2 separate regions of the Homo sapiens genome follow, and region 2 is linked to region 1. The links come from fine-mapping of genetic effects on plasma protein levels. A gene starts in region 1. The other region holds a variant in brackets. All regions are shown on one strand. Distances are between the middles of the regions. Region 1 holds the start of CD300LG (CD300 molecule like family member g). Region 2 overlaps MPP3 (MAGUK p55 scaffold protein 3).

Evidence for each region. PIP is the posterior inclusion probability: the model's chance that the variant is causal. The UK Biobank Pharma Proteomics Project read protein levels with antibody pairs (Olink). The fine-mapping took linkage between variants from a reference panel, not from the people measured, so its PIPs are less certain.
Region 2: its variant is fine-mapped to the plasma level of the CD300LG protein (UK Biobank, PIP above 0.99).

What each region holds. Positions count from the first base shown.
Region 1 is chr17:43,838,866-43,854,375 of GRCh38, reverse strand. CD300LG (CD300 molecule like family member g) reads right to left here and starts at 7,200. Exons shown (of 7, transcript NM_145273.4): 1 at 7,117-7,200; 2 at 5,483-5,818; 3 at 1,363-1,464; 4 at 332-569. The coding sequence starts at 7,159. It overlaps LOC107984979 (a long non-coding RNA gene), which reads right to left. Exons shown (of 3, transcript XR_001753057.2): 2 at 14,428-14,519; 3 at 7,901-8,112. LOC107985077 (a long non-coding RNA gene) reads left to right here. Exons shown (of 2, transcript XR_001752896.2): 2 at 4,075-4,626.
Region 2 is chr17:43,807,402-43,822,911 of GRCh38, reverse strand. It overlaps MPP3 (MAGUK p55 scaffold protein 3), which reads left to right. Exons shown (of 20, transcript NM_001932.6): 11 at 1,854-2,050; 12 at 4,802-4,866; 13 at 6,215-6,235; 14 at 6,833-6,874; 15 at 8,551-8,715; 16 at 8,821-8,901; 17 at 11,707-11,800; 18 at 11,997-12,105; 19 at 13,834-13,956. Among named protein-coding and RNA genes, the nearest start is that of MPP3, 18 kb to the left of the region's middle. The variant A/T (reference allele first, on the strand shown) is at 7,468.

The DNA.
Region 1 (15,510 bases):
TTTTCATGTTTGGCACAGGGCTTAGTGCAAAGTATACAGGCAAAAGCCCCAGAACTGGGGTGGCCGTCCCTGAGGCTGGGGCAGGGAGAGAGGTCAGGACTGGGATCCTGGTGGACCCTTCACACTGGACAGGCAGCAGAGCTGCTGGCTCCTATAGTACAAGCTGTCCACTGCTCAAGGGCCCCTGTGAGGGACTCTCTGTGCTGCAGGCTGTGGCCATGACAAGAGGATGCGTCCGCTTAGAGGAAAGAGTGTTGAGTTCCTATTTTCTCAAAGGCACCTTATGGTTTAGTGATGGCTTGAAAGGGGATGTTGGTCACCTGGGGCTCACCTGGGCTTAGAGCTGCCACTGCTGAGAGCTGGACTGGTGTCCTCTGCTGAGGTGGAGTCCAGCTGCATGGGGGGGCGGGAGCTCCCTGCAGGAGGAGAGGTCGCTGGGTGAGGAGAGGTTCCTGTGTACTGAGAAGTCCTTTCGTGCCCGTACTGGGAAGTCCCTGGCAATGGAGGGGCCTCAGCCCCTGTCTTCCCCTGCTTGGCTGTGGTGGCTGCCGGGTAGAGCCCAGGAGAAGCTACAAGTCCAAAAGCAATGCCTCAGCATCCTTCCTGACCCTTGCATCCCAGCATCCCTGACTTCTGACCCTGGACCCCTGAACCCTAGCCTCCCTGGGACCCGTTTCTCGGAACATCCCCAGCTAAAGGATACCCCAGTAAGCAAACAGATCTAGATGAAGCCACTTTGAGGAAGGAGACCGTAGATCAGGCACACCCCACAGCTGTGCATGATGTTCAGTCTCTTTCTGTGCCCACAGCTTGTTGCCTCTGTGAGGAGGTATAAGCACTCCCCTTCCCCGCTTCCATGACCCTTTCCAGTGACCATTCAGTGGACACCTTCCTGCCCTCCCCCTACAGTCCCAGTCAATTGTCACCTCCTTCCTCACCAGAAGGGCAGGTCCTCCCCTCACCACCATGTGCCCCCTCCCCAACCACCCGTGCCTCAGTAAGGCCTTGACTTCCTTCTGCAGCCATGAGACCAGGAAGGGCAGGGTGGCAGGATGAGTCCAGAGGTCAGGGCCCAAGGCCTGGCCTTTCTGGCTTGCCCCCGAGACTCTGGATGGCGCAGACAGAATATGAGCTTTGGGGTCAGGCTGTGACCACTTCTGGGATCTGGCACTTCTTGTGTGACCCTGAGCAAGTGACCTAACCCTGCTGAGCCTCCACTTCCACAGCTGGACAACCCAGCTCCCAGGCTTGTGGGGACACCTAGGTGGCCATAAACTATTGTGTCTGGTACCAGGCAGGCACTCACTGGCTGCTTCTGTAAGAAGGGTGGCAAGGGAAGGGGCGGAATTGCCATTCACTCACTCAATCCTGGGGGCTGGGTTTGCTGAGCTTTTGCCTTGGGCTGCAGGCGTGTTGTAGCCAGAGGCTGGAAGGTGGGAGAAGGGGAGGGAGGACAGCAGGGTCCTAGAGGAAAGGGAAAGGCTGCTCTCAGGGGTGGCACCGCTCTGAACCCCTTTTCCTTCCTTGGGAGCAGCTGGCAGTTTTCCTACCCCCCACCTCAGCACAGAGCACTGCCATCTTTCGCCTCGGCCAACCAGGAGCCACGTGGCGGGTTCCAGCAGATCCCTGGTCTTCTACTCCTGCAGCCCCCTGGCCTCGCGCCTAGCTCAGAGCCTCAAACCCACCTGCCTCTCAGCCTGCTTCTTCCCTGCCACCCTTCACACTACTCCAGTTTTGTCTCAAAAGTCTGTGTTGGATCCCATCCCTCTCTGCCTTAGAACAGTCACTGGCTCTCCATTGCCTAAAAGCCAAAGTTCAAACTTTTTAGTATGCCTTTCGAGGCCTCTTAAACTCAGGCTTCAGGCCGGGTGTGGTGGCTCACACTTGTAATCTCAGCATTTTGGGAGGCCAAGGCTGGTGGATCACGTGAGGTCAGGAGTTCGAGACCAGCCTGGCCAACACGGTGAAACCCCCTCTCTACTAAAAATACAAAATTAGCTGGGTATGGTGGAGCATGCCTGTAATCCCAGCTACTTGGGAGGCTGAGGCAGGAGAATTGCTTGAACCCGGGAGGGAGAGGTTGCGGTGATTGCAGTGAGCCAAGATTGCGCCACTGCACTCCAGCCTGGGCAACAACAGCAAAACTTCGTCTCTAAAAAAAAAAAAAAGCAAAGAACAAAACTCAGGCTTTGAGGCTTTGAACCACCTTGTCAGCTTCGCCTCTTTCTCTGTTCGGTGCTCCAGCCATAGAGTCATCCTCTATTCCCGACTAAACCAGCCTCCTGCCCACCTCCGTGCCTTGGACATGCTGTTCCTCTGTGTGCGATGCCTTTCCTTTCCATCTCTGCCTAAAGCACTTCTTTCTGTCCTTCAGCACAAGCTCAAGGTCAACTCCTCTGTAATGTCTTCCCTGGAAGCAGCGAATCTCTTTTTCCTCTGTGCACTCACAGTCCCCTGTGCGTGCCTCCAGTGGCGCTAATGCTCACTTACACTGCAATTTCTTGTGTACTGGGTCTCCCTGCTAGGCTGAGACTCCTTAAAGGCAAGATGCCTATCCTCTTGGGAGGCCAAGGCAGGCAGCTCACAAGGTCAGGAGATCGAGACCATCCTGGCTAACACGTGAAACCCTGTCTCTACTAAAAATACAAAAAATTAGCCGAGATCGCGCCACTGCACTCCAGCCTGGGCGACAGAGCGAGACTCCGTCTCAAAAAAAAAAAAAAAAAAAAAAAAAATTCCTGTCCTCTGTGCCCAGCACAGTGGGCAGAAGCCTGATGCAACCAACTCCCCAGGAGCTACTCCGGTCCCCACTTCCCCAAGTCCATCTGTCACTTCCCCAGTCCTTGCTGACTGTGTGCCATCCTGGACTCTCCCTCTTTCTCCACCACTTTCTCTTCTACAGATTGAGTATCCCCTATCCAAAAATGCTTGGGAACAGAAGTGTTTCAGATTTCAGAATATTTGCATTATATCTGCCGATTCAGCATCCCTAATCCAGGAATCTGAAATCCAAAATGCCCCAGTGAGCATTTCCTTTGTGTGTGTGATGCTGGCACACAAAAAGTTTCGGACTTTGGAGTATTTTGCATTTTTGGATTAGGGATACTCAATCTGTAACACTAGGTCAGTTTATTCTTGGATTTTTCTAAGTAGATGATCAAATCTTTTGCAAATACAGAGTATTTATCTTTTCCTTTCCAACATTTATACTTCTTCTTCTTTTTTTTTTTTTTTTTTTTTTTGAGACTGAGTCTGGCTCTGTTGACCAGGCTGGAGTGCAGTGGCACGATCTTGGCTCACTGCAACCTCCGCCTCCCGGGTTGAAGCAATTCTCTGCCTCAGCCTCCTGAGTAGCTGGGATTACAGGCACCTGCCACTATGCCCGGCTAATTTTTATATTTTTAGTAGAGACGGGGTTTCACCATTTTGGCCAGGCTGGTCTTGAACTCCTGACCTCGTGATCCACCCGCCTTGACCTCCCAAAGTGCTGGGATTACAGGCGTGAGCCACCATGCCGGGACTTATACTTCTTAATCTTGCATATTTCATTGCCTAGGGCCTTCAGGCAAAGATGAATAAAAGAAAATGATAGTAGGCTGGCTGGGCACAGTGGCTTCTGCCAGTAATCTCAGCACTTTGAGAGGCTGAGGCAGGCAGATGGCTTGAGTCCAGAAGTTTGAGACCAGACAGGCCAATATGGCGAAACCACATCTTAAAAAAAAAACAAAAAACCAAAATGTAGCCAGGCATAGTGACTTGTGCCTGTGGTCCCAGCTACTCTGGAGGCTGAGGTAGGAGGATTACTTGAGCCTGGGAGGCAGAGGTTGTAATGAGCCAAGATTGTGTCACTGCACTCCCGTCTGGATGACAGAGTGAGACCCCATCTCAGAAAAATGAATGAATGAATGAATGAATGAATGAATAAAAATAAATAAATAAAAAGAAAAGAAATGATAGTGGCTACATTTGTCTTTTTCTGACTTTCTTAGAAATTCTTCTCATGGTTCACCATACTCAATGGTGTGCTGGAGATGGCTCGCACTGACTCACAAGAGCTCACTGTTAACTTTTCAGGAGTTGGTGAGATCGTGTTAAACTGTCGATGGCTGGAAATTGGCCATGGGAATTGGACCACAGAAATGGACACCACAGAAATTGGAAAACACCACAAAATGACAGCATCCCCAGCCTGTTAAACATTTACCAGCACATCACTGTCGTCAGTCTTCTTCATTTTCAACATCCCAACTGCCATCAGAGAGAGGCCAATAGAGTCCGATATAGGACGATAATATAGCAATACACATGTCATACACAAATAAAGAATTACAAATGAGGGTAAACCTAAAACACAAGCGAACTTGATCATAACTGGTAGAAATGACATGTGAACACTGATAAGAATTGGAAGAGATAAGAGAATCTTGTAAATAATGAAGAACAGATTCAATGTGGTTCGATGCTGCTGCTATTTGGCAAGTTTAACTTTATTTCCTCAAATTAAAGATCCATGGATAAAGGAATAAAAAAAAAATAGGGGCTATGGTGGTAGGGATGGGCCTGGGATTGGGATAGGTCCCAGCTATGGGGCTAGGAGAGGAATAAAGCAGACATCAAAGCTGGAAACGACTTGTGTTTGAATCCCAGTTCCATCACTTCCTGCTGTGAGATCTTGGGCAAATCACTTAGTCTCTTGGAGCCTCAGTCCCTCATCCGTGAAATGGGGATACAAAGATGTACCTCGCCCACACTGGCCAGCAGACCAAGGCTCCCACTCCCCTGGGCCCTCTCTGGCTTCTTTCTCCTTAGCTCAGCAGGTCCACTTGGGGTTCTGGGCTCCCAGAGAGGTGCTTTATCCCCTACCCAGGCCCCATAGCTCCAGCCCCGGCCCCCTAGTGTCCCTGCATTTAACGATCCCTCCTTCAGGCATCCTACCCAGAGGCTGGTTCCCAGGCACTCTAGCACCTGTGGCTGGACTTCAATATCTGGGGAGGTGGAGGCCAGGAGGGGAGAGTTGAGGGCACAAGCAGGGCGAGGCCAGCATGTCCAGGGTGATGCTGTGGGCTGGGTCTGGAATGCAGCAATGGTTGGCCCAGCCTCGGGAGGCCTCAGGAATATCTCTGACACCAGGCGAGGAGTCTTCTTTATCCCCTGATATGTCTATCTTGTACCCAGCCTATGGAAATCTCCCTCCAGCACACCTGGGCAGAAAGGAAAGGCGCCGAGCCCAGCCCTGGACAGATCTGGGTCCGGTCCTGCTCTGACATCTACTACTGGTGTGACCTCGGGCAGCAAGAGTGAGACAATGGCCAAGACTCAGGCGGCTCCTTCTGTGCCCCAAGCCTTGCTCGGTGCTTGACCTGCATGATCTCCCTGAGGACTCAGTGCCCATAATGTTGGTACCAGGATTATGCCCCACCACCCCTCCCTCTTCCCTCTGCAGCTCCTGTCCCCAGCCTGGGGAAGGAGAGATATCTGTTACCTGGAAAGACGAACAGAGAGATCAGTAAAGACTCATCGGGGCCCCGTTTTTCGACCCCACACCAGTACTCCCCAGCGTCTTGCAGGGTGAGGTTCCACAGGGTCACAATGAGCGAGAGCTCCTGGCGGCTGTCACGGATGGACACCCTGCCCTTCATTGTCTCCTGGCCTTCTTCTTCTGCATAGATGGTGCCAGAGCAGCGAGAGAAGAGGATCCCACCCTTCCTGCACCAGTACTTCCGGTGGTCCCTCAGCTCTTCCCTGTAGGTGCACTGCAGGGACACAGTGTCCCCTTCGAACCCGCTGATTTCCTCTGGGCCCTCCAGGGCTTCATAACCTAAAATCAGAGCAGGAGTGGAGGTTGGAAAAACCAGGCTCCATGTACCAAGGTCAAGGCCAGAGCTTCCATTTTAGGAGGAAGAAGGAAGGCTTTTCTCAGTCATCCCTTCTGGGGACAGCCTTGGAAGAGCCATTACTAACCTCCCACGCTGGGGGAACTTGGGGCAGGGCTGTTGCTGTTTCCCTAACCCTGGCCCATTGAGGAATTGGGGTGCAGGGGTGGCGTTCTAGATTCAGATAGAATCTGACAGCCAGATAGCCAGCAGGGTTTCTGAGTGTTTTGTTTTGTTTTGTTTGTTTGTTTGTTTGTTTTTGAGATGGAGTCTCACTTTGCCGCCCAGGCTGGAGTGCAGTGGCCCGATGTCTGCTCACTGAAACTTCTGCCTCCCGGGTTCAGGTGATTCTCCTGCCTCAGCCTCCTGAGTACCTGGGACTACAGCCACGTGCTGCCATGCCCGGCTAATTTTTTGTATTTTTAGTAGAGACGGGGTTTCACCGTGTTAGCCAGGATGGTCTTGATCTCCTGACCTTGTGATCCGTCCGCCTCAGCCTCCCAAAGAGCTTGGATTACAGGCGTGAGCCACCGTGCCTGGTTTTGTTTTGTTTTTAGACAGGATCTCACTCTGTTGCCCAGGCTGGAGGGCAATGGTGCTCATGGCTCACTGTAGCCTTGACCTCTGGGGCTCAAGCGATCCTCCCACCTTAGCCTCCCACTAGCTAGGACTACAAGTGTGCACCACCATGCCTGGCTAATTTTGTTTGTTTGTTTGTTTGTTTGTTTGTAGAGATGGGGTCTCACTATTGCCAACTGAACAACTGACATCAGTTGTAGGATTTATCCTGATTTTAAGTGTTAGAAGGTAAAGAAAAAGAAAGCAAAAGAATTGATGAAACGTGATAATTCTTCATCTTTCAGGGTTGTGGGGAGAGGCATAGCCGAAATTCAACAAATATTTGCTGAGTTTAACAGGGCAACCAGATGGGGTGTCTTGTCCGCCTCCAGGCTTGGCACAGGGTAGAAAAATTAAGATTAGAGAGGCAAAGCAACTCTCACAGCCACATTGCCATGAGGGGAAACCCACAGGTCTGGAGAAAACCTGGCTCTAGGTTCCAGAAACAGCAAGTGCGGCCCCGGCGCCACCCCCACCTCCCCCCACCCCCAGCCCGCCCCGCTCCCCTAGGGCTGAGGAGGCTGAGGATAGGTGGGGTGGGGCTATCAGTCAGTCAAGAGGTCCTTTCCCTGCAGACCACAAGGGTGAGCCCCACATCCCTCCCGAGACCCTCTCCCCATCTCACCTGGGAGCAGCAGGCAACCCCATAGCAGGACCAGAAGCCGCATTCTGGGCGCTGGACACCGTGGGAGCAGACGCTGGGAACTGTGAGCTCCTCTTCAGTCACACGGGTCTTTAACTTTCTCTAGTCGCGTGAAACCAGGCCAAGGAAGCGAGGGGAGGGGCGTGTGGGTCATCCCTCCGCAGGCCCAGCCGGGGAGGCGCCTCTGCCTTCCCTTTTCTGAGCGCCCACGCGTGCCTACCCCAGGGCTCACCTTCCAGGACTGAAAACCCACACCAGAGTTTCTCCTAAACTCGTGCCCCTTCAAGGGGGCCTTAACCTGTGGTCCGTGCGCCCTAAGGGGTCTGTAAGTCGAATTCGCATGGGAAAAAGTTACATATTGACTTTCATCAACTTCTAATATTTAGCTTTTCCTCTTATTCAGAGTGTACTGTTAGCAGTACCTGCAACTTTGTTACCAATTACAATCACAGACACTGGCACATCAAGTTGTGGATATCTCGAAACGTCGTGTATACCCCTCACTGCTTGGAAAACAATGAGTTCCTAGACCTGCCCCTAGAGCTGGTTATTTACAATAATGAAACGGCTATTATTATATTACACATTTATAAAGAGTTTTAAGAATCATCTCACCAGTATTAGTTTTCTTTCCAGCATATATATTTTATTTATATATTTACCCGCCATTATACTGAGAGAGGGGTCCATAAACTTCACCAGACTGCCATGTGGTCAGTGGGACAGAAAGAAGCTTGCCCCTGGGGCAAGGCCCCTGGCCCCTCCTCCGCCCTTGCCTTTTGGAGGACGCAGTACTGCCCTTGGCCACGGGGCGGCGGTGCAGACGGGGCTGAGCAAAGCTGTAGGGCTGAGCTGGACCGGATTCCCTGGTGCCTTGGGCCTACAGCGCTGCAAGATAGGTCTCCTCCACGCCTGCGGAGTTGTTTTGGCATTTGAAAAAGTGAATTGGTGGTTTCTCCATCGCAGACTTGAATCCTCCTTGAAAGGACCAAAACAAACATGTACACTACTGGGAGCTCTGACACACTGGCTTCAAAAATGACTTTTTTTTTGGTTTGGTTGCAAAGTTCATACAGGTTGTAAGCAAAATTTTACACAATACAGAACGTAAAAAGGAAAGAAAGAAAAAAGGGAGTGCTTCTTGTAATTCCCCTTCTGCTTTAGAAAAGCACCATTAATATTTTGGCATATATCCTTCCAAATGTTCAGTTGGAATTTTACTGACTTGTCAGGTTAATATCTGAAGCATTAACTCAGTGGTTCTGGGAGGGAAGATTGTGTGTGTGTGAGTCTAGTAACGTGGGGAGAAGTGTTTTAATTTCACAATGACTGCGAAGCACTGCTGCCATTTAGTGGGCAGGGCCAGCTGTTCACGGTGGGGAAAACTGTTACCATGATCTCAGCCCCTGACTCTCTTTTACATGTACAGACTACAAAAGGTGATCTGTTTTTGCAGTTTTAAAAAAACACAGATTAAAAAATATTTATGGCCCAGCATGGTGGCTCACGCCTGTCATCCCAGCACTTTGGGAGGCTGAGGCGGGTGGATCACCTGAAGTCGGGAGTTTGAGACCAGCCTGACCAACATGGAGAAACCCAGTCTCTACTAAAAATATAAAATTAGCCAGGCATGGTGGTGTATGCCTGTAATCCCAGCTACTCAGGGAGGCTGAGGCAGGAGAATCGCTTGAACCCAGAAGGTGGAGGTTGTGGTGAGCTGAGATCACACCATTGCACTCCAGCCTAGGCAACAAGAGTGAAATTCTATCTAAAAAAAGAAAAAAAAGTATTTGTTTATTTACTTATTTTTGAGACAGGTCTCACTCTTGTTGCCCAAACTGGAGTGCAGTGGCGCCATCACAGCTCACTGCAGCCTCAAACTCCCAGGCTGAAGTGATCCTCCCACCTCAGCCTCCCAAGTAGCTGGCACTACAGGCGTGCACCACTGTTGCCTGGCTAATTTTTTATTTTTAGTAGAGACAGGGTCTTGTTATGTTGTCAGGCTTTTCTCAAACTCCTGGCTTCATGCGATCCTCCCACGTCGGCCTCCCAAAGTGCTGGGATTACAGGCACGAGCCACCATGCCCGGCCTTAAAGTAATACTTATTCTAGCATTTGATAGCATATCTTTGCTCTTCTATTTATTTATTTTTGTCCTTACACAGAATAATTTCTGATCCTCTACATTTCTTAAATTCAGACTTATTTATTATATGCAAGGACGAGCATCTGACACTTCATTATGCTTTCTAGTGTCATGGGACCTGAGCACTGACAGATTGAAATATGTGTTATTTGGTTATAAATTGCTTTCCTTTTATTTTTTCTCCCTAGTATAGCTCAGGCACTATAGTGTGATTTTAAAGAAGTAAGTGCTTGTGAAGGCATATTATTTATGATTGTCATTTTAGGAGAGTAAGCGAGGTGTTATTAAATGTTTATTTATATAAAGAGCATGTTGAGTGGATCCCTACCCTCTTCCTGCATATTTGAAGGTCCTTCCCCTCCATTTCCCAGCCCCACACCTAGCCCAGGAGGCTGGCTCAAGAACTCCATTAGAAACAGATTCACCAGACTGGGAAGTGGAGCAAGGGCTGGGGAGAAGGGTGAAAGTGAGGTGCTGGCATGAGCCTCGCACCTAGTTCCACCTTAGGCCACACTCTGGGGTAGATGGGGCCAACAGACAGACCTCCGTGGTGGGCTGGGGATCTGAGAAGAGAGGATATTTTTGTCCTGCTTCCCACCAGAAGCATGGGGAGGTGCCCCACCATCACTGCACCTGGGAGAGGCAATGAGGCACAAGGGCTCCTGGACAGGTCACTGGGCTCGTGACAGCCTCATCACATCCTCAGGAAGGCCTCTGTGTGCCCAAGAGGTACAGTGGCAGGGATGAGGGGACTGAGCTGCTTGGTCTTCGATGGCCACCCTGGTCCAATTCCTCTCGGTTTGGACTTGGACTAAATCACTTCAGCTGCTCCAAGAGGGTCACTTGCTCCTCTTAGATCAAGGTTTCCCCAACCTCAGTACTGTTGACATTTTAAGTTAGATAATTCTTTGTTGTGGGAGACTGTCCTGTGAATTATAGGATGTTTAGCAGCATCTCCAGCTGTACCCCCTAGATGCCAGTAGTCCCTTCCCAGTTGTGATAATCAAAAATGTCTCCAGGCTGGGTGAGGTGGCTCATGCTTATAATCCCAGCACTTTGGGAGGCCAAGGTGAGTGGATCACTTGAGCCCAGGAGTTTGAGACCAGCCTGGGCAACATGACAAAACCCCGTCTCTGCAAAAAATACAGAAAATTAGCCAAGCATGGCAGTGTGCACCTGTGGTCCCAGCTACACACAGGCTGAGGTGACAGAATCACCTGAGCATGGGAGGTCGAGGCTGTAGTGAGTCGAGATCCCATCACTGCACGCCAGCCTGGGTGATGGGAGTGAGACCTTGTCTCAAAAAAAAAAAAAAAAAAAAAAAGGCCGGGCGCAGTGGCTCACGCCTGTAATCCCAGCACTTTGGGAGGCCGGGGTGGGCGGATCACAAGGTCAGGAGATCGAGACCATCCTGGCTAACACGGTGAAACCCCGTCTCTAAAAAAATAAAATACAAAAAAATTAGCTGGGCATGGTGGCGGGCACCTGTAGTCCCAGCTACTCGGGAGGCTGAGGCAGGAGAATGGCGTGAACCCGGGAGGTGGAGCTTGCAGTCAGCTGAGATCACGCCACTGCACTCCAGCCTGGGTGACAGAGCAAGACTCTGTCTCAAAAAAAAAAAAAAAAAAAAAGCCTCCAGGCATTGTCAAACATCCCACTGAGAGGCAAAAATACCCTGGGTTGAGAACTGCTGTCTTAGATGATGAATAACTGTGGAACAAATAAGTGCACTTTTGTGTAAGTTATGTTTATTGTTTATGTAGGTCAGGGTGTTCCATCTTTTGGCTTCCCTGGGCCAAGAAGAAGAATTGTCTTGGACCACACATAAAATACAGTAACACCAGTGATAGCTGATGAGTTAAAAAAATAATCTCATAATGTTTTAAGAAAGCTTACGAGTTTGTTTGGGGCTTCATTTAAAGCCATCCTGGCTGCATGCAGCCCGTGGGCCGCGGGTGGATAAGCTTGATGCAGGCATAGTAACACGGTTTTGGAAACAGGACAGTGGGCAGAACCTAATGCTGAACCCCAGAATCAGGTAAAACTGCGTCCTTCTTTCCTCAGTGGAGCTGGGCCATCCTCGTAATACTCAGGGTGAGGTGTGGTGTATCAGTTTAGAACACACACTTTTTGCAGGTGGGCCAGCTCACCAGAGAAAAGGAAGAAGAGAGCCGGGTTACACACGCCTTGTTCCTCCTTCAACATTCATCAATCAAATCAGCAGAGGCATGGAGAAAGGCGTGGAGAGGTGTAGAGAGAGGCGTGGAGAGGCGTGGAGAGAGGCGTGGAGAGGCGTGGAGAGAGGCGTGGAGAGGCGTGGAGAGAGGCGTGGAGAGGCGTGGAGAGAGGCGTGGAGAGGCGTGGAGAGAGGCGTGGAGAGAGGCGTGGAGAGGCGTGGAGAGAGGCGTGGAGAGGCGTGGAGAGAGGCGGGGAGAGGCGTGGAGAGAGGCGTGGAGAGGCGTGGAGAGAGGCGTGGAGAGGCGTGGAGAGGCGTGGAGAGAGGCGTGGAGAGGCGTGGAGAGAGGCGTGGAGAGGCGTGGAGAGAGGCGTGGAGAGGCGTGGAGAGAGGGGTGGAGAGGCGTAGAGAGAGGCGTGGAGAGGCGTGGAGAGAGGCGGGGAGAGGCGTGGAGAGGCGTGGAGAGGCGTGGAGAGAGGCGTGGAGAGGCGTGGAGAGGCGTAGAGAGAGGCGTGGAGAGGCGTGGAGAGAGGCGTGGAGAGGCGTGGAGAGAGGCGTGGAGAGGCATGGAGAGGCGTAGAGAGAGGTGTGGAGAGGCGTAGAGAGAGGCGTGGAGAGAGACTAAGAGTTTTGTGCCAGTGGGGTTCTCTGCTCATGGAAGGAAACATCAGGAGTGGGGAAGACGTGTCCCCGGCAAAGACAAATGAGCCACAAGACAGGAAGATTTGGATTCCTGAGCTACCACTTGGAAGACAGCTGCCCTGGACAGCCACCAAGCGTGCGGCGGACTTGGAATGAGCAAGAGATAGACTTTTCTGTGTTTAGCCACGGAGATCTTGCAGTTTGCTAGTTGCTGTAGCACAGTGTAGACCACCACCATGCTTTTTGTTTTCCGTCATACATTCATCCTCTAGTCTCCTCGCAGCTTCCCTACCCTAGCTGGTTGCAAACTCGATTTTTCAACTTTCTCCATCAAACAAATCTGAAAACTCCCTTTCAATTTTTTTTTTTTTTTTTTTTTTTTTTTGAGACAGCAGGCGCGATCTCGGCTCACTGCAACCTCCACCTCCTGGGTCCAAGCGATTCTCGTGCCTCAGCCTCCTGAGTAGCTGGAATTACAGGCACGTGCCACCATGCCCAGCTCATTTTCTGGTATTTTTAGTAGAGACAGGGTTTCACCATGTTGGCCAAGCTGGTCTCAAACTCCTGACCTCAAATGATCTGCCTGCTTCGGTCTCCCAAAGTGCTGGGATTACAGGTGTGAGCCACCGCACCCGGCCCCTTTCAAATTTTTTATGTTAACCAATTACTTCGGGGAATGACAGGGAAAATGATGGAGGAGGGCAGTAATGGGAGACTGGTAATGCCTCAGGAGCTCAATCAGTAAATGCCCACGTTTACTGATAGGTAAATTTCAAATCTTCTCAGAAACTTTGAAGGCTAACTGCAATGTGTTATCTTGGACTGGATCCCAGAACAGAGAAAGGATATTAGTGGAAAAACTAGTGAAAGATTAATAAAGTCTGGAATTTCCTTAATAATAACATTCCAATGTTCATGTCTTAGTTTTGACAAATGTATCATGATTATGTAAGATGCTAACATTAGAGAAAACAGGGGAAAGGGTGTTCAGGAACTCTCTGTACTATCTTTGCAACTTTTCTGTAAATCTAAAATTATTCCAAAATATAAAGTTTATTAAGAAAAAAGAAAGTATACTGGGGAGGCTGAGGTGGGAGGATCACTTGAGCCTGAGGGGTCGAGGCTGCAGTCAGCCGTGAGCATGTCACTGCACTCCAGCCTGGGTGACAGAGCGAGACTGTCTTAAAAAAAAAAAAAAAGCAGTGAAAAGCTAAAAAGAGCATGGGGGTTCCCAGGCATAAGTCTGCATGCAAGTAGACAGGAAGCCAGAAAGATAAGCTCAGTGTATGTGCTTGTTTTCCCTGTGGGCATTTACTGATTCCAAAGCAGCAGCGAAGAGGATGAACTAGGAGTCTAGGGCCCTCTGGGGGCAGGGAATGGAATCTGGCATATTTTTGGTCACATTAGGCTGGGACCCCAAAAGGCTGTACAAACCAGGCCACCATGGACTTCCACCCAGCTTTCTGTCATTTAGGTGTCCCAGGAAACTTCAAGCTTTGAACTTGAATTAAAAGTGGCTCTTGTCTGGCAGCACCTTCCCCATCCCTACCCTCGGGTACCTTAAAGATATTAGTGAAAAATCCTTTCTGGAGGAAAATAGCATCAGCCTAAGCTGATCATTTTTACAAGTAGTTTTTTCAAATACCATCTAATATATAATCAAAGATAACCAAATCTATGAGAAGACTCAATAAGCAAGAATATGCAGAAACAACAAAACAGACCCGTGGGGACTCCATATACTGTAAATAGCAGGATCAGCCTTAACACAACTATTCTTACTGTGCTCAAGGAGGTAAAAGTCAAGCTTGACATTTTTGGCAGGGAACTGGAAAGAACAAAAAGTGACAGCAGATTTGAAAAAAGCACAACATAAGAATTCTAGGACTGGCTGGGAATGGTGGCGCATGCCTGTAGTCCCAGCAACTTGGGAGGCTGAGGCTGGAGGATCGCTTGAACCCGGGAGGCGGAGGTTGTAATGAGCTGAGATCGTGCCATTGCATTCCAGCCTGGGTGACAGAGCAATACTCTGTCTCAAAAAAATAAAACAAAAATAAAAATAAGAGAAATAGGTAACAAAAGCCACAAACAATAGGAAAAGTTATCAGAAATCTCAAAAAACAAAACAAAACAAAAAAACCCCAAAACCCCAGTACAGTAATTTCCCTTCTCATTGAGAAGTAAATGGAGCTGAGCCTGCCCTTTCTCCACCCGCTTCTGACTTGCCCTCTTGCTGCATGCCTGGGCACTAGCCCATTGCTCCTCTTGGAATTATTTCTGGTTCCCTATGGTGTCTGGGCTGAATGCCAAATGCAATGACAATGCACACCTGTAGCCTGAAGCAGATTCTCTCTGTCACCTCTTCAAGGATCGTTGGCATTCTCTTTTTTTCCAGAGCATGCTTGGTAAAGTCTCTTCTCCCTGTCCAGATGGACCCAAAGTCATTCATTCCTCTGGCATTGAGCTCATCTTCCTGTTCCCTGTGCAGCTGCTCTAAACGAGCACCTTGACCGAGCCCTGGCTGGGTGAGGCGACTCCTGCCCTGAGCTTCCGGCCATCTGGGCCAACTCCGCCCTGGCTGCACCTGCCCTGTCCTATGATGCAGCCTCTCCCAGCACTCCTGCTCCAAGCTCTCATCCACCTAAACATCTCTCTCTGCTTCTCTTTTCTTCCATTCTGCTTGCCCAAATATCCTCTGGACTAAAGGACATGTACATATAATATTTTAACAAATATTACCAGATCGTGTCCCAGAAAGTTTGCACCAAATAATATTCCTTCCAAATGTGTAAATGTGTCTTTTCCCCACATCCTTGATAGCACTGGATGTCAACAGACTTAAACATTTTTGTCTTAACAAGGGACATTGCCTCCTATTTTGGCTAAGAATTCTTCGATTATGAGTGAGGTTGTGCATCTTTTGGATTTTTTTTCCTTTTTTTTTTTTTTTAAACAGGAGATCTAGCATCAGTTTTCTGTGTTTATTGGCTATGTATTTTTTGTATTAGACTATTTTCTTTGACCGTTTAAAATTTTTTCATCTTTTCTCATTTATGTAAACTCTTTTAAATTGAGGAATTTAACTTTATCATATTGCATATGATATCATATGTTGCAAATAATATTTTTACCTATAAAAATGTTTACCCTTTTTTAAATCACACATATCCACCTTTTCCTTTATAGATTTGGATTTGGAATTTACTTAGAAATGTTTCCCTCACTGCAGCCGGGCGCGGTGGCTCATGCTTGTAATCCCAGCACTTTGGGAGGCCAAAGCGGGCGGATCACGAGGTCAAGAGATCGAGACCATCCTGGCTAACACGGTGAAATCCCGTCTCTACTAAAAATACAAAAAATTAGCCTGGCGTGGTGGCAGGCACCTGTAGTCCCAGCTACTCGGGAGGCTGAG
Region 2 (15,510 bases), 31 kb after region 1:
GCCAGGCTGCACCCGGGGGATTAATTCCTAGCAACTTCTGCCTGCTGGACTAGAGATGAGTAGGTTCCAGTGGCCAGAGAAAGTAAGTCCTTAGGCAAAGAGATGCAGGTGCTGGCAGCTGGAAGTCAGCCCAGGCTGCACTGAATGGTCCAGCCCTGGGGCATATGGGAGGGCATCCCACAGCCCAAGAGATAATCCCATAGGTTCTAATAAGCTCTTTTTTTTTTTTTTTTAGGATGGGAGTGGTGCAGTTATATTTGTGTTTTAGAAAGCTCCGTGAGGCAGCCACGGGGAGGAGGGTGGAGTGGGTAGAGGTTGGAGGCAGGGAGGCCTGGTAGAAGGCTCTTGTAAAAGCCCAGGTGAGACGTTAAGACCTGAACTGTGAGATGGTGGTTGATGAGATAGAGAGGAGGGCATCACTTTGATTTCATAGTAGAGTTTCCTGGCAGCCAAGGCAAAAAGGAGAGCATAATGAATTACATACTGTTGAGCAGAGAATGGAAGGAAGCATGCCAGTTTTTCAAGACATTCCCATACCTGCCTCTCAGTACTTAATGCATGAAAGAAGAAACATTACAGCATCTAGCACAGAGGAGATGTCAGTCGATACTTTGAAGAATGTGGATTTGTAATGGACTACGTCTTCAATGACAGTTTTTTACAGCAAGTGAAGAAATAATCTTTATATAGCTGTTTCTTATTTGTGCTCTTTGGTTAAATCCCAGGGCATAATATTTCCTCTTACCTGGTGGAAAGTGATTCTTCCTAGGACAAGCGAATGTGGTCCGCACATGCAACTTTGAGGGTTCTGACTTGAGGAAACCTCTTTGAGGAAGAGAACTTGGTTTTCCTAAAGGACAAAATGAGTAGCCTGTCCCCCAGCCTGTCCTTCTTGAATATTTCTTCTTGATCCAGATGCTTGATTTGGGCTGGCCACTTAAGATTACATTCTTCTGAGTGCTTAGGACCCTGGTAACATCTGTGGCTGGTTAAGGGCATCTGTCCCCACAACATATGCCAGAAAGTTCTTACTGTTGTCCAGTGGAATCTTTTCTGGTTGGCATACAAAGGAATAGAGTTTGTATCTGTCTGAGGAAGACCCCTGATTGCTTTTTTTTTCCTGTTTGCCACTGAAGTGATTGGGCCCTAATGGTCTGAAAATAGAAATAAATAAAGTTAATCCATGCCACTAAATTATCGAAGAGAACAAGGAAGTGTGAAAAATGCTGTGTCCTCACACCATCTTCTCCAGAGAGGGTGACTCTAGAGCAGAGGGGGGAATTAGGGCTTGGCCGAGTCTATGGCAGACGAGGCAGGATTGAGCCGTAAGAGCTGTGGGTGTCAATTACCCACTGAAAAGTGATGGTGAGGAGTCAGTAACAGTAGTTTTGTTGATATTTGTGTTCTTACCCAAACATCTAGATTACTTATATAACAGATGGCTGCTGCCTTCCGTCAGCGCAGTTGGCGTATCAAAAATAACACTTGAGTTAGAAATTGTGCTTGCCTTTACTTTTTGTTCCCAGGATTAGTTGTTGCTGTGTGTATGCTAAGAGGCTGTTATGAGGACAGCTGGTCAAGTAAATAAGGAAATATTTAGGTAGGAAAGAGACATTCAGTCATGGGGCTTATTAATTTTCTGATTCTTGATGGACTTCCTGACTATAGTATCCCAAATGGTTGAAGAACAGTTAAGAACATACGTGCAGTGTATTTCCAAGTAGCTTTCTATTTGAAAGGCCACTTGGTCCTCCTAAGTGTGGATGGTCGTTGTCATGTGGCCTTTGATGTGACAATGACCTGTCTGTGCTCACTTGGGGAAGGGCCGCCTCACCAGAGCCCTCCTTGTGCAGGTGTTCATGCGCGCCCTCTTCCACTACAACCCTCGGGAGGACCGGGCCATCCCTTGCCAGGAGGCGGGCCTGCCCTTCCAGCGCAGGCAGGTCCTGGAGGTGGTGAGCCAGGACGACCCCACGTGGTGGCAGGCCAAGCGAGTCGGGGACACCAACCTTCGAGCCGGCCTCATCCCCTCCAAGGGGTTCCAGGAGAGGTGGGTCTGGGGTATGTTGTGAAGGGCTGGTTCCAGAGTGGCAGAGGCACAGGTACATGGCAGACCCCCAAGTCTCTGCCCTCACAGCCAGAGGGGCCTGCTGAGCATTGTTCCCCCAAGGTAAGTACCAGTTGCACTTGTGTTTGGTCTTTTCCCATAACTAGTGATGATGGTTATTTGAGATTTAAAGGAATCTATGGAAATTTATGTTATTAAGTTAATGTGTGTGTGTGTGTGTGTGTGTGTGTGTGTGTGTATTTTTTTTTTTTTTGAGACAGAGTCTCCCTCTGTCACCCAGGCTGGAGTGCAGTGGCGAATCTTAGCTCACTGCAACCTCCACCTCCCGGGTTCAAGCAATTCTCCCGCCTCAGCCTCCTGAGTAGCTGAGATTACAGGCGTGCACCACCATGCCTGGCTAATTTTTGTATTTTTAGTAGAGACAGGGTTTGGCCAGGCTGGTCTCAAACTCCTGGCCTCAAGTGATCCACCTGCCTTGACCTCCCAAAGTGCTAGGATTACAGGCATGAGCCACTGGATCCAGCCTAAGTTAATGTATATTTTATAATGCATGCTCAGAGAATGCTGATAAACAAAATATAAAAATACAGAAGAGAGGCTGGGCATGGTGATGACTCACGCCTGTAATCCCAGCACTTTGGGAAGCCGAGGCAGAAGGTTCCCTTGGGCCCAGGAGTTCAAGACCAGCCTAGGCAACATAGTAAGACCTTGTCTCTACAAAAAATAAAAAATTAGCTGGGCATGGTTGCACACACCTGTAGTCCCAGCTACTCGGGAGGCTGGGGTGGGAGGATCAGTTGAGCCCAAAAAGGTCAAGGCTTCAGTGAGCTGTTATCACACCACTGCACTCCAGCCTGAGTAAGAGTGAGACCCTGACTCAAAAAACAAAACAAAACAAAACAAAAAAACAGAAAAAAACTGAAGAGGAGGACTATGAAAGGAAATTCCCCACGTCTCACCCTTATCTAAACTGCATAGTTTGTTTCCTTACTGTGCTTTTTATGTGAGTGTTGCATACAGAATTTGGGGTCTTGCTTTTTTTTTTTTTAAACATTTTTGGCGTGAGTATTTTCCATATTATAGCATCGTTTTTGTAGTGTGATTTTAGTGGCTGTATACTAACTCATCAGGAGCTGTGCCATTCATTCCTAGGCGGCAGGTATTTAGGATGAATTGAGCTGGCCTTGTGCTGGCATCTTGCGGGCTGCTGTGAATCCAGGGTTTCTGCCCTGGAGGAGCTTATAGTTCAGTGGAAAAGCCAGACGCTCTTCAAACACACAGTTTATATAAACGTGATGGGTGCAAGGGAGGAGGACATGGTGCTGTGTGAGTTCATATTAGGAGGCTGCGCCCTCATCCAGGAATGCAGGGAAGGCTTCTCAGAGGAACTAGCTAAGTGATTTCACTGCTTTCCTGTGGCTGCACTTCGATTAGGTTGTTCCCAATTCTTCACTTTTATAAGGCTGCAGTACTTACTTACTTTGCACATAGACTGTTCCTCATGTTTCAAATTATTTCTTTAGACTTCCAGGAAGGTCAGTCTTGGGTCAGAGGGTGGCAGTTGTGACTTCCACTGTGGGTTGTAGCCCTCACATCTTTTGGTGTGTGGACTGTGGTAAGGACAGGACCTTGGGGTTCACCCATTTCAGTGGCCCTCAAGGTGTGGCCCCCTGGCTGGGGGCTTCAGCGTCACCTGGGGACTTGTTAGAAATGCAGATCCATGGGTCCTGCCCAGAAACTCACATTCTAACAAATGTTCCAGGCGATTCTGAGATGCCGAAGTCTGAGAACGAAGCTCTGTCTCCTCGGGAACCCCAGACCCATCTCCATTTTAGGGTTCACAGGTCTTGGCAACATCTTACCAGAGGATGTGGGGGACAGCTCTTCAGCTGCATTTTTTTTTTTTTTTTGAGACATGGTTTCACTCTTGCCCAGGCTGGAGTGTAGTGGTGCTATCTCAGCTCACTGCAACCTCCACCTCCCGGGTTCAAGTGATTCTCCTGGATTCTCCTGCCTCAGCCTCCCGAGTAGCTGGGATTACAGACGTGCACCACCATGCCCAGCTACTTTTTGTATTTTTTAGTAGAGACGGGGTTTCACCGTGTTGGCCAGGCTGGTCTCGAACTCCTGACCTCAAGTGATCCTCCCGCCTCGGCCTCCTAAAGTACTGGGATTACAGGTGTGAGCCACCACGCCCGGCCCTTCAGCTGCATTTAAATGTGGAAATCTAGTGACCTCTGAGAGCCCCACCTCTCCACTCATGGCCACATTGGACAGTCTGCCCGGGCTGAGCCTTCCGCTGAGGGGAGGGTGTTAAATTAGGGTCACTTCTGTCCTCGGCCTCTCCTGGGAGTCATTCTGCTATTTCTCAGCTCCCTCAGAGATGGGGAGGCTGGGGAGTAGAGAAGGGGCTGCCTCTCCTTAGAAATTGGCCATAGGAGAGTAATGACCAGCTGAGGATTGTACACCGGGCTGGATCCTGTGTGGCCATCTTGAGCTGGATGAGCTATTTCTGGAGCAAGAGACTCAGTTTCTTCCTCCTGGTGAGCCAGTGAGCCCTGTGAAAGTGTTCCCTTCGTTGGAACTTAGTGCTAAGCAGGAGGCCCTCAGAGTGTCCAGTGTGTGCCCACCTGTGGGATCCAGGCCTTGGCTTCCCAAGTTTTCCAGAAGGTTCCTTTCAAGTGGTTATCTGGCCCAGCTCACGGGCCCGCCCATCCCCTTGTGTCCCTGCAGACGACTAAGCTACCGGAGAGCCGCGGGCACCCTGCCGAGCCCCCAGAGCCTCAGGAAGCCCCCCTGTGAGTAGATTGTCAGGGATGGCACTCCAGGGAGGGCCCGGGGTTAGGGCGAGGGAGGATTCAGGCTGGGAAGAAGTAGGCAGTGGGCTGGAGGGGGCATCAGGGGTCTTGTCTGAGCTCATGGACTCCAGAGGAAGGAGGGGGTGGGAAGTAGGAGGTGGGGGGCAGCTAGTCCCTGGAGAGGAGCTTGTATATTTGGAGTCCATAGATGATGCTGGGGGGTATGTTAACAGCTTTCCCAAAATGTGCAGATGTGTGTGTGTTCACACGCGTGTGCATGTGCGTGTGAGGATCCACAGCTTTCGTTAGATTCCCAAGGGCTCTCTGACCTTGAAAATGGAAGAAGCACTGGCGTTGGAAGGGAATGGAGAAGGCCATGTGTGACCTGGTGCCTCTGGTAGGGCTGCCAGATTGCCAGACTGGGCAAATACAAATAAAGGATGCCCAGTTGAAGCTTGAATTTCAGATAGATGACAGATTGGTTTCTAGTATAAGTATGTTTTTATGTAGTTTTTATTATAGTATAAGTATGTCCTGTGCAATATTTGAGGCATACTTATACTAAGAAGTTACTTGTTGTTTATTTGAAATTCAAGTTTAAGTGGGTGTCCTGCATTTTATCTGGCAACTCTACACCGTGTAGCACTTTACACTTTAGAAAACATGTCCACCTACTTCTTGGAACCCTGTGAAGTCGGTAGAGTCAGCTATCTTTTCTAAGCTGGGAATATGTAGGGTCACAAGGTTAAGTGAGCAGAGTTGGGGTCACATTTTCTGAAGGCCTGTGATCAGAGCCCCAGGGTAGGGCCCCGTGCAGAGAGGAAGCTTTTCCAGAGCATGGTCTCTCTGGTACTAGAGGGCAGACTTGTAACCGAGTGAGCGGCCTGAGCAGGTGCCAGGTGACCAGAACACAGATGGCCTGCAGCTCTGCTCCACCCCGCTCCATCCTCAGGCATCTGCGTTTTCCAGGGCCAGACTCCAACCCCAGAAAAGAGAGAGTGGGTCCTATTCCCACCGCAGGATCCTAGAGTAAGCTGCTCCCTGGGCCCCTGACAATGGCCACTTTTCCAGACTTGCTGTCAGGTTAGAAGGGCAGTGGCCTTGAGGCTGCTGTGCCACTGATGAGCTGGCTTTCTCTGGTGCTAATGAGACACATACAAGAAGACTAATTAGAGCAGGTCTTGGGGTTTAATAACGTACCACAGCTCAGATCACAGGTTCGTTGGAGGAAAGGGAAAGAGGCCAGATGGCGGGCTCCTCAGGCACTCGGGCCGTGGCTGCCCTCAGCCGCAGGGTCCCCGCTTCCCTCCACTAATGCTGTTCCATCTGTCTTTTGTGCAAACCGCAGATGATCAGCCTTGTGACAAAGGTAGGCCCAGTATCTATCCGCTGTCCACAGGCGTGGCCCCTTTTCCGTGGAACGTCTGGGGCCTGAGGGGCTCGTGTTCTTTCCCTATCTGGGCAGCTGTGCCCCTCCCACTGTCTGCGCACCTCTTCCTGCTCTGCCAGCTGGACTGGGCTGTTCCTTGAGGCAGGCAAAGCTGGTGGGGACAGGGTTCAAGGCCTTAGGGGCACCTCCCTGCCCTCCTGACACGTGCGGCCCAGCCTTTCCAGGACTCGGCTACGCTGTGATGGGGCTGGATAGGAGACAAGGGGTGGGAGGGCAGGGCAGGCTGGAGTGAATCCCTCCCTATTCACACTGCTCACACTCAGGGACTGGGGAGGCCTGCTGGCCTAGAATCCCCCTCAGGGCCTGGAAAGGCTGTTAGGGGCCTAAGCATGGAGAACTGAGCAAAACAGAGGACCTTGCTTTCTTGGGGTGTCCAGGACATGGGATTTCCCCTGAGCTCCCCACGAGACACCATCCCAGGGGGCTCTTCCTGCCTGGCCATCCAGGGGCTGGGTGCCCTGGGCCGGATGTGTCTGGTGGGACTCACTGGCTTCCCTCCCTCTGTTTGCTTCCCAGAGACCTGTGACTGTGAGGGCTACCTCAAAGGGCACTATGTGGGTAAGTAGCTCCCCCTGACACCCACATGCACGACCTGCCCCACCCAAGGCCCCAGAGTTAGGGAGAGGTCAAAGCAGGGTGATCTGAGCCCCAGGAGTCCTTCTGGAGCAGTGGAGCCTATGGGACCCCCATCTCTCCTCAGTTCTCTCAACCCAAGCAGGAGCTGAGCCTGCCCAGGCATTGGGCCCCCACCCAGCTTTTACCCAGCTGTGGGGCACACTGCCCTGGCGGGAAAGGCACACACACCCCTACATTAATACCAATTCTATTATCACCATCATTGCAATTGGAGTTTATTCAATATTAACACCACTACCACGCAGTGAGGGGTGTTTGCGGCTCTCCAGAGCCCCTTTTCACTTGTTTTGGTCAGTTTTTTCAAAGGTCTTAGAGATAGGCAAAAAGTTTTTTTTGTTTTTTGGTTATTTTTTAGAGACAGGGTTTTGCCCTGTCTCTCACGCTGGAGTGCAGTAGTGTGTGACATTGCAGCTTGCAGCAGCCTCAATGTCCTAGGCTCAAACAATCCTCCCACCTCAGCCTCCTGAGTAGCTGGGACTGCAGGCATCTGACACCATGCCCAGCTGATTAAAAAA[A/T]TTTTTTTTGTAGAGATGGGGTCTCGCTATGTTGCCCAGCTGGTTTCAAGCTCCTGGCTTCAAGCAATCCTCCTTTCTAAAAAGTTTTTAAACTTTTTTTAAACTTATTTTTTGAGATATGGTCTTGCTCTGTTACCCACACTGGAGTGCAGTGGTGTGATCACAAATCGCTGCAGCCTCAGCCTCCCAGGCTCAAGCGATTCTTCCCTCTCAGCCTCCCTAGTAGCTGGGACTACAGGTGCATGCCACTATACCTGGCTAATTTTTGTATTTTTTGTAGAGACAGGGTTTCACCATGTTGCCCAGCTGGTCTTGAACTCCTGAGATCAAGTGATCTGCCTGCCTTGGCCTACCAAAGTGCTGGGATACAGGCATGAGCCACTGCACCCAGCCCCTTAACTTTTGTCCTGAAGTAATTTCAAACTTACTGAAAAGGTGTAAGAATTATACAAAGAACTCTCATATACTCCACACCCAGATTCACCAGTTGCTCCTTTGCCATGTTTGCTCAATTTCCTTTCCCACATCTCTGAATTTTTTTTTCCTGAGTCATATGAGACTTAGTTGTAGACATCGTGTCCCTTTAACCCTAAATCTCTCAGCATGTATTTCCTAAGGCCAAGGACTTTCTCAGGGCAGTGATCAAATTCTGAGAATTTAAAATGTATCCAAATCTGTTATATGCTGTTATTTAAATGTTAACAATTGTCCCCATCATGTCCTTTATGACATTTTCCCTTGGTCCAGGATCTAATCTAGGACCACACATAGTAGTTGTAGATTCATATCTTCATTTCACAGGTAAGGAAATTGAGGCTCAGAGAGATGAAGGGACTTGTCCAAGGTCAGTCACATGCCAAGTAAAACAGTGACCTTAAGCCCTAGTTTGTGAATGCAGGGGTCACCCTTTCATCTTATTATTGTATTTCCTGAACAACCTCTTCCAGTAGCAGGAGGAGGTTGGGAGAAGTCAGTGGGACTCAGTCCCATCTCCAGGTCTGGCCAGGTGGGAAAAGTCTCTACTGGGAGATCCTGGGACAACTGGGACAAATGCCATGGTGTCCCTCTGCCCCTCCTCCCAAGCTGGTCTTCGGAGGAGCTTCCGGCTGGGCTGTAGGGAGAGACTGGGTGGCTCGCAGGAAGGAAAGATGTCCTCCGGAGCTGAGTCTCCGGAGCTGCTGACTTACGAAGAGGTGGCCAGGTACCAACACCAGCCCGGAGAGCGGCCCCGCCTGGTGGTTCTGATCGGTAGGTGCCATCCTGGGTTTCCAGGAAGTGATCTGGTTTCCTCCCTGGAGCAGGTGGGGAGGGAGCTCAGCAGGGACCCTGGTCAGCCTTCTTCTTGTTTCCCAGGGTCTCTGGGAGCCCGACTGCACGAGCTGAAGCAAAAGGTGGTGGCTGAGAACCCACAGCACTTTGGCGTCGCTGTTCCACGTAAGAGGGCCCATGTGGGAGTGTGTGTTTGTCTGCACACACACAAATATTCCATGGAGACTTAACTCCCCAGATCCATCCAAATCCTTACTTTGGGTTTAAAGGATCACCAGGCACTGCCTGCTATTGGCAAATTGTGGGACAAAGGCATGATGGGAAGAAATCCACTCCCAGTGGTCCTCTGAGACCCTCTGAGGCAGAAGTTGGAGGACCACTTGCTTGGTTCCTGCCTGGGGTGGGAGATGAGTCCAGAGCACATTGTAGGCAAAGTGGCAGCCTCAACCTGACACCACGGGGCCCCCACAGTAGGGGGCATTCCTCCTCATCACAGTGAATTTTGACTCCTGTGGCCGCTGCCCTCTGCTTGGATGAGAGGGCAGGTCAGAGAAGCCACAGAGCCCTGTGAGTGGTATTTCTCGGCACTCCCTTATAGCCAGATTCCAGTTTGTCAGGGTAGCTGGGTACATTCCTGGGTGATGCCTCCCCTGCCAATTCCTGGGGCTTACTGCTGCCAGGGGCACCCTGGGATGTCAAGCTCCAGTGGGCAGAGGATCCTGGTTCTGAATGTGATAAGGAGGATGAGGAGGAGGAGAATGAAGGTGCCAGGTAATGCACCAAGAGCTTTTATGTGTAGTGCCCTGCGTCAGCCCTCCCAGTACCCCTGAGAAGAGAGATTGTTATCATCTTGTGTGGCAGAGGAAGACAGTGAGGGTCAGAGAGGTTAAGTAACTTGTCCAATGTCACACAGTTGGTAAGTGGTGGAGCCAGGATTCATACCCAGGCAGCCTGCCCCAGTCATGTTCTTAACGAGGATGCACAATGGCCTCTCACCTGCCGCCTCCCACTTCGTGCCCTTGGCTGCCCCTTTTCTTTCTGGGACTCACTCTCAGTCCCCCTGGCCTCAGAGGGATGCAGTGTGAATGCCTGGTGGCTACTGAGAGGGGTGCTGTGGGGGCCCTAATGGGGCCTCCTCAGAGTGTTCTGGGGCAGAGCAACCATGAAGCCTTGCTTTGATCACACCGCTCTCCCTGGGCCCCTGGGCCCAGCGTCTAGTCTGTGGGTTGTCAGAGCTGTCTTCCACAGCCCAATCTGAAGTGGCAGGGATGTGGGGGAGGTGGTGGCCCTGGGGAGGCCATCCTGGCAGCACACCTGTGATGGACCTGGAGGGCTTCAGGGAGCCACGGCCTTCCAAGTTTCAGGTGGACTGAAACAGGACATGCAGAGGTTGCTCACACACTGATCGTTCAGAACCCCTTGGATCCACCCCCTGGAGAAGAGGTACCTGGATGGTCAGGCCCACCTGCTTCTAGGCACTCCACAGATAGGAGACTTTCCTCCTTTGTTTTAGAAACTGGGGGAGTCAGGGAAGCCTTCCCAGAGGCAGTGACTTTTATGCTGGGTTCTGAAGAGTAAATAGGAGTTTTCCAGGCAGAAGAGAAAGGAATAGTTCTCTTTACAGAGGAAACAACATGTGCAAAGGGACGGAGCAGTGTTGGGGACCGGGGAGATTAGTGTGGATGGTGTGCTGGAAAATGGAGCTGAGAGGTTGGGCAGATCACGCAGGTCTCAGATACTCAGCTAGGGTGTTTAGAATGTAACCCATAGATAAATACAAGTTTTTAAGCAGGGGGATGACATGGTTGGAAAAGTGACCCTAGCACCTCTACCGGAGGTTGGACTAAGATGCCACAGAAAGAACACAGGGCATACCCTGGGTGGTTCCCATGGGCCAGAAGACACAGTGCCTCAAGATCCCATTTTATCTTTTGGAAAATACTGTGTGTGTGGCTTTGTGTGTGCCCTTGTTCTGCAGAAGACCTGATTTTCCTCAGAAGTGTGCATCCCAATTCTGTTATGGAAATCAATGAGAAAACACCATGTGTTTCAACATTTTTGTTTGAGAGCCAGCCTTGCTGAAACACATCCGATCTATATAGGGACGGTCTGTCTTCCTGTCTCCTTTTTCTGGAGATGAGAACTAATTGACTAAAGAATTAAAAGCATACATCAGGGTCAAGTGTATGTGTGGCTCCTTTGCTCTCAAAAAATAAAAAACAATGAAGAATTAAAAGTTAGGACTAGGGGTCCCTTAAGTGATTCTTTAAAAGCCACAGCATATGCTGGGCGCGGTGGCTCATGTCTGTAATCCCAGCACTTTGGGAGGCTGAGGCGGGTGGATCACCTGAGGTCGGGAGTTCGAGACCAGCCTGACCAACATGGAGAAACCCCATCTCTACTAAAAATACAAAATTAGCCGGGTGTGGTGGTACATGCCTGTAATTCCAGCTACTCGGGAGGCTGAGGCAGGAGAATCGCTTGAACCGAGAAGGCAGAGGTTGCAGTGAGCCGAAATCATGCCATTGCGCTGTAGCCTGGGGAACGAGCAAAACTCCGTCTCAAAACAAAAAACAAAACAAAACAAACAAAAAAAAAACACAGCATCAGGGAGTCAGTTAGCAGAGTGGTTAAGGGTATAAGCTGGGCATTTGGCAGAGAGACCGATTCTGGCTGTGCTCTCTACTGGTTGTGGGTCACTGTGCACAGTGCTGAACCTCTCCGTGCCTCAGTTTTCTCAGCTGCAAAAGGAAAAGCCTCCTTTTGCCTACATCAAAGAGTTGTTGTGTGAATCAGTGATACGCCTGCCTGGAAAGGCACAGTGCCTGATACAGGGACATGCAATGAGGTGGAAGTGCCTGGTTTAGACACAGCAGCAGTGAACTCCCAAATGAGTGCCTAAGCCTGCTGCTGTCCCTGCGTGCTGTGATGTGACATCTCTTTGCCCAGCTTTCCTTCTTTCTTTAAAAGATACCACCAGGCCCCGAAAGAGCCATGAGAAGGAAGGAGTGGAATATCACTTTGTGTCTAAGCAAGCATTTGAGGCCGACTTACATCACAACAAGTACGTTGCTTGATGGGCCAGTTGGCCCTCCAGGCAGTTGTGTGTTTTTGTATCTGTATTCCACTAGAGCTCCTGGGAGGACTCCCGGAAAGGATGGGGGAAGCGGGAGAGAAGTCATGTTGGGAGGTCCCCTTTGCTTTGCTAATTTAGGAAAGCTGAGGAACTAAAGGCCTTTTCCCCTTTGGTGGTGTTTTAGGTTCCTGGAACATGGTGAATATAAGGAAAATCTGTATGGAACCAGCCTGGAGGCCATTCAGGCTGTTATGGCCAAAAACAAAGTTTGTTTGGTGGATGTGGAGCCAGAAGTGAGTTGCTGGGCCTGCTGGCCATTTCTGGTTAACGGAATTTATAACTAGGGGATTGTACATTTTACACAACACTTAACCTCAGTCTAAGGAATTTTTAGTCTAGAACACTGGCTGTTCAATTTCTTTGGGTCTTCCTTTGAGAATCAAATGAAAGCCTTGTACCCCAAAACATGCCCCTCTATCCACAAATGCTGCATTAATTGTAGGGAGCTTGTGGACACTCTGGTGGCCCACAGACCCAGGCTAGTAACTCCTGCGTGGAACAGATCATGCAATAGTTGGTGGCGCTGACTGGCCATTGCAATGTGCCAGAGAATTAGATGTCAGTACCCAGGTGAAACTGGGGCTGAGCTCTCGGTGCCAGGCCTCCCCCTCCCCAACCAGGGCAGGTGGAGTCAGTGGCTTAGAGAACCACTCAGGGAGGCAGTGAGGAGAGCAGTTTAAAGGGGAAAAAGAGGGAGGGAGACACGGCCCTGGGAAGTGCTTCAAAAACATTTCCACTCCTGCACACCCAGCATGCTGTGGACTCAGCAGGGGCTTAACCATCTTTTTAACCTTGTCTTTTAGAAAAACTTCCAAGCTTTGAACTCAATCTGGGGATTTTTTTTCCCCTCTATAGAAACAGATCTCTGATTTTATGCTATAAACTGTAGGCTTTATTTTAAAGAAGTTTGCTTGAAATATATTCCAAAAAGCACGTTATGCCTATAAAGGAAAACACTCATTTGGACTTACAGGGAGTTAGTGATCAAAATTAAAAGTCTGAGTTTCAAAATTTTCTTTGAAAAGTGATTTTATTGATCACTTTATTGATCAAGGGTGCAGATAATGCATATAGCAGTTTAATACTAGTGTTTCCAAGTGGAGCCCTTACTTCTAGATAAAATGCATTAATCAAGAGTACAATTTCTTTTTCTTTTTTTTTGAGACAGATTCTTGCTCTGTCACCCAGGCTGGAGTGCAGTGGTGCGATCTTGGTTCACCGCAAGCTCCGCCTCCCGGGTTCACGCCATTCTCTTGCCTCAGCCTCCCGAGTAGCTGGGACTACAGGTGCCCGCCACCACGCCTGGCTAATTTTTTGTATTTTTAGTAGAGACGGGGTTTCACCATGTTAGCCAGGATGGTCTTGATCTCCTGACCTCGTGATCCACCCGGCTCGGCCTCCCAAAGTGCTGGGATTACAGGTGTGAGCCACCGCACCTGGCCCAAGAGTGCAGTTTCTACAGTCTACAGTTTTAAATGATCTGTTCAGTAATCTCATTTGCTTTGCAAACCTTTTCTTCTTTGAATACCAAGAGGAGATGTAATAGCACAAAGTTTGTAATAATGTAGTCCGATTGATGACATTTGACTAAATAGATACACACTGACTCCTGCTTCCTCACCCATCAGAAATGGAAGGTGGAGAGGAGCCTGAGAAGGTTAATTATAGCCGGAGGAGTCAGAGCTAAGAGAGACAGCAACTGTCTCTGAGCTGAGGCTTAGGAACCTTCTGTTGGCAGTGAGTGTGACTTCAGGGCCCCGCTGAGTTCAACGTCAAAGTGAAGGATGAGAAAAGGAGCAGTTGGTCTGCCCAGTTGAAGTCCATTGTCATGGGACCCATGTAACCAGGACCTTTGCTGTTGAGGTTATGGTATTGAAGCACACGATTATTGAGCTTTCAAAAGTCTATTTCACAACAAAACACTTCAAAAGTATATAATATTCCTGAACTTTCTTTCTCAGGCACTGAAACAACTGAGGACCTCAGAATTTAAACCCTATATTATATTTGTAAAGCCTGCAATTCAGGAAAAAAGAAAAACGCCACCTATGTCCCCAGCTTGTGAGGACACAGCAGCCCCATTTGTAAGTTTAAAGTTGATTGTTTCTTTTCTGAAGGCCTAAGGGAGGCTGTTACAGGAACGCTTCTAGCTGCATAAGGGTGCTTGCAGCTGAAGAGGGATGCGGGACACACCTTCTACATGTGATTGTCTTTCCATTTTGCCTATTGAAAAACTTAAGAGAAGATGATTACATGGCCAGAAGGCTCAAGGTGAACAGCTGGAAGTGCCTCCCAAACCAGGCAGGTGGCTTTGCCTGGGCTCACGCCCCTCCACTCCCTCACATAAGCGCCCTCCCGCAAAATGTGACACCTGTCAGGGACCTCATCTGAGTGTGACAGACTGTACTCATCAAACTATACTCCTAGGCCAAATCCAAGTATTTTAAATTGAAACCCCAACTAACAAGGTCATTATCACTGCTATCAAACCAGTTTGAATCATCAGTGAATGAAGGGATTTCTAAAACTAGTGGATGAGATCGTCTGATGTGTCCTAAATGAACTTCTGTTTCACTGTCATAGATTCTTTGTTCAGCCCAGTCTATGTCAGGATGGCGAGACCCTCACCCAAAACCTAAATATTTGACAGAGTTCTTCCAGGAGGTGTGGGCTTGGTGACTCATCTTTTTTGGTTCTTAACAGGGTCAGTTAGCAGAATGAGTTGGAAGTTGTTGTGGGTGGTGGGGGCAGTCAGAAGCAACTCAGTCCCAGAATAGACTTTACTTGCTGTCCTATATAGCTGGTTTCATCTGAAGGAGGCCTTCTCGGATCCTTCCCCTTGGTCAGGAAGCTCCCGCTGAGTCAAGATTTTGATGCAATCCTAGTTCATACTAATTCTCAGTTTTAACTGTCCACGTTGATACACTTTTTATTTTATTATTATTTTTTTAAAGACAGGGACTCACTATGTTGTCCAGGCTGGTCTTGAACTCCTGGGCTCAAGTGATTCTCCCACCTTGGCCTCCCAAAGTGCTGGGATTACAGGTGTAAGCCACTGTGCCCAGCCTTTTATTTTTTTGGGGACAGGATCTTGCTGTATTGCCCAGACTGGAGTGCAGTGGTACAATCATGGCTCACTGCAGCCTTGAACTCCTGGGCTCAAGCAGTCTTCCTTCCTCAGCTTCCTAGGTAGCTGAGACTACAGGCATGTACCATCAATGCCCAGCCAATTAAAAAAAATTTTTTTATAGAGACAGGGTGTCTCTGTGTTGGCCAGGCCGGTCTCAAACTCCTGGCCTCAAATGATCCTCCTGCCTCAGCTTCCCAAAGTGTTGGGATTACAGGTGTGAGCCACCGTATCTGGTCTCAGTAAATTATTTAGAATGGCATACATACAAGGAACATTAGAAATTCTCTCCTTGGCCAGGTACGGTGGCTCACACCTGTGTCTCAGCACTTTGGGAGGCTGAGGCGGGCAGATTGCTTGAGCCCAGGAATTCAAGACCAGCCTGGGCAACTTGGTGAAACCCCATCTCTACAAAAAAATTACAAAAATTAGCCAGGTGTGGTGGCACAAACCTATAGTCCTAGCTACTCGGGAGACTGAGGTGGGAGTGGGAGGATCACTTGAGCCTAAT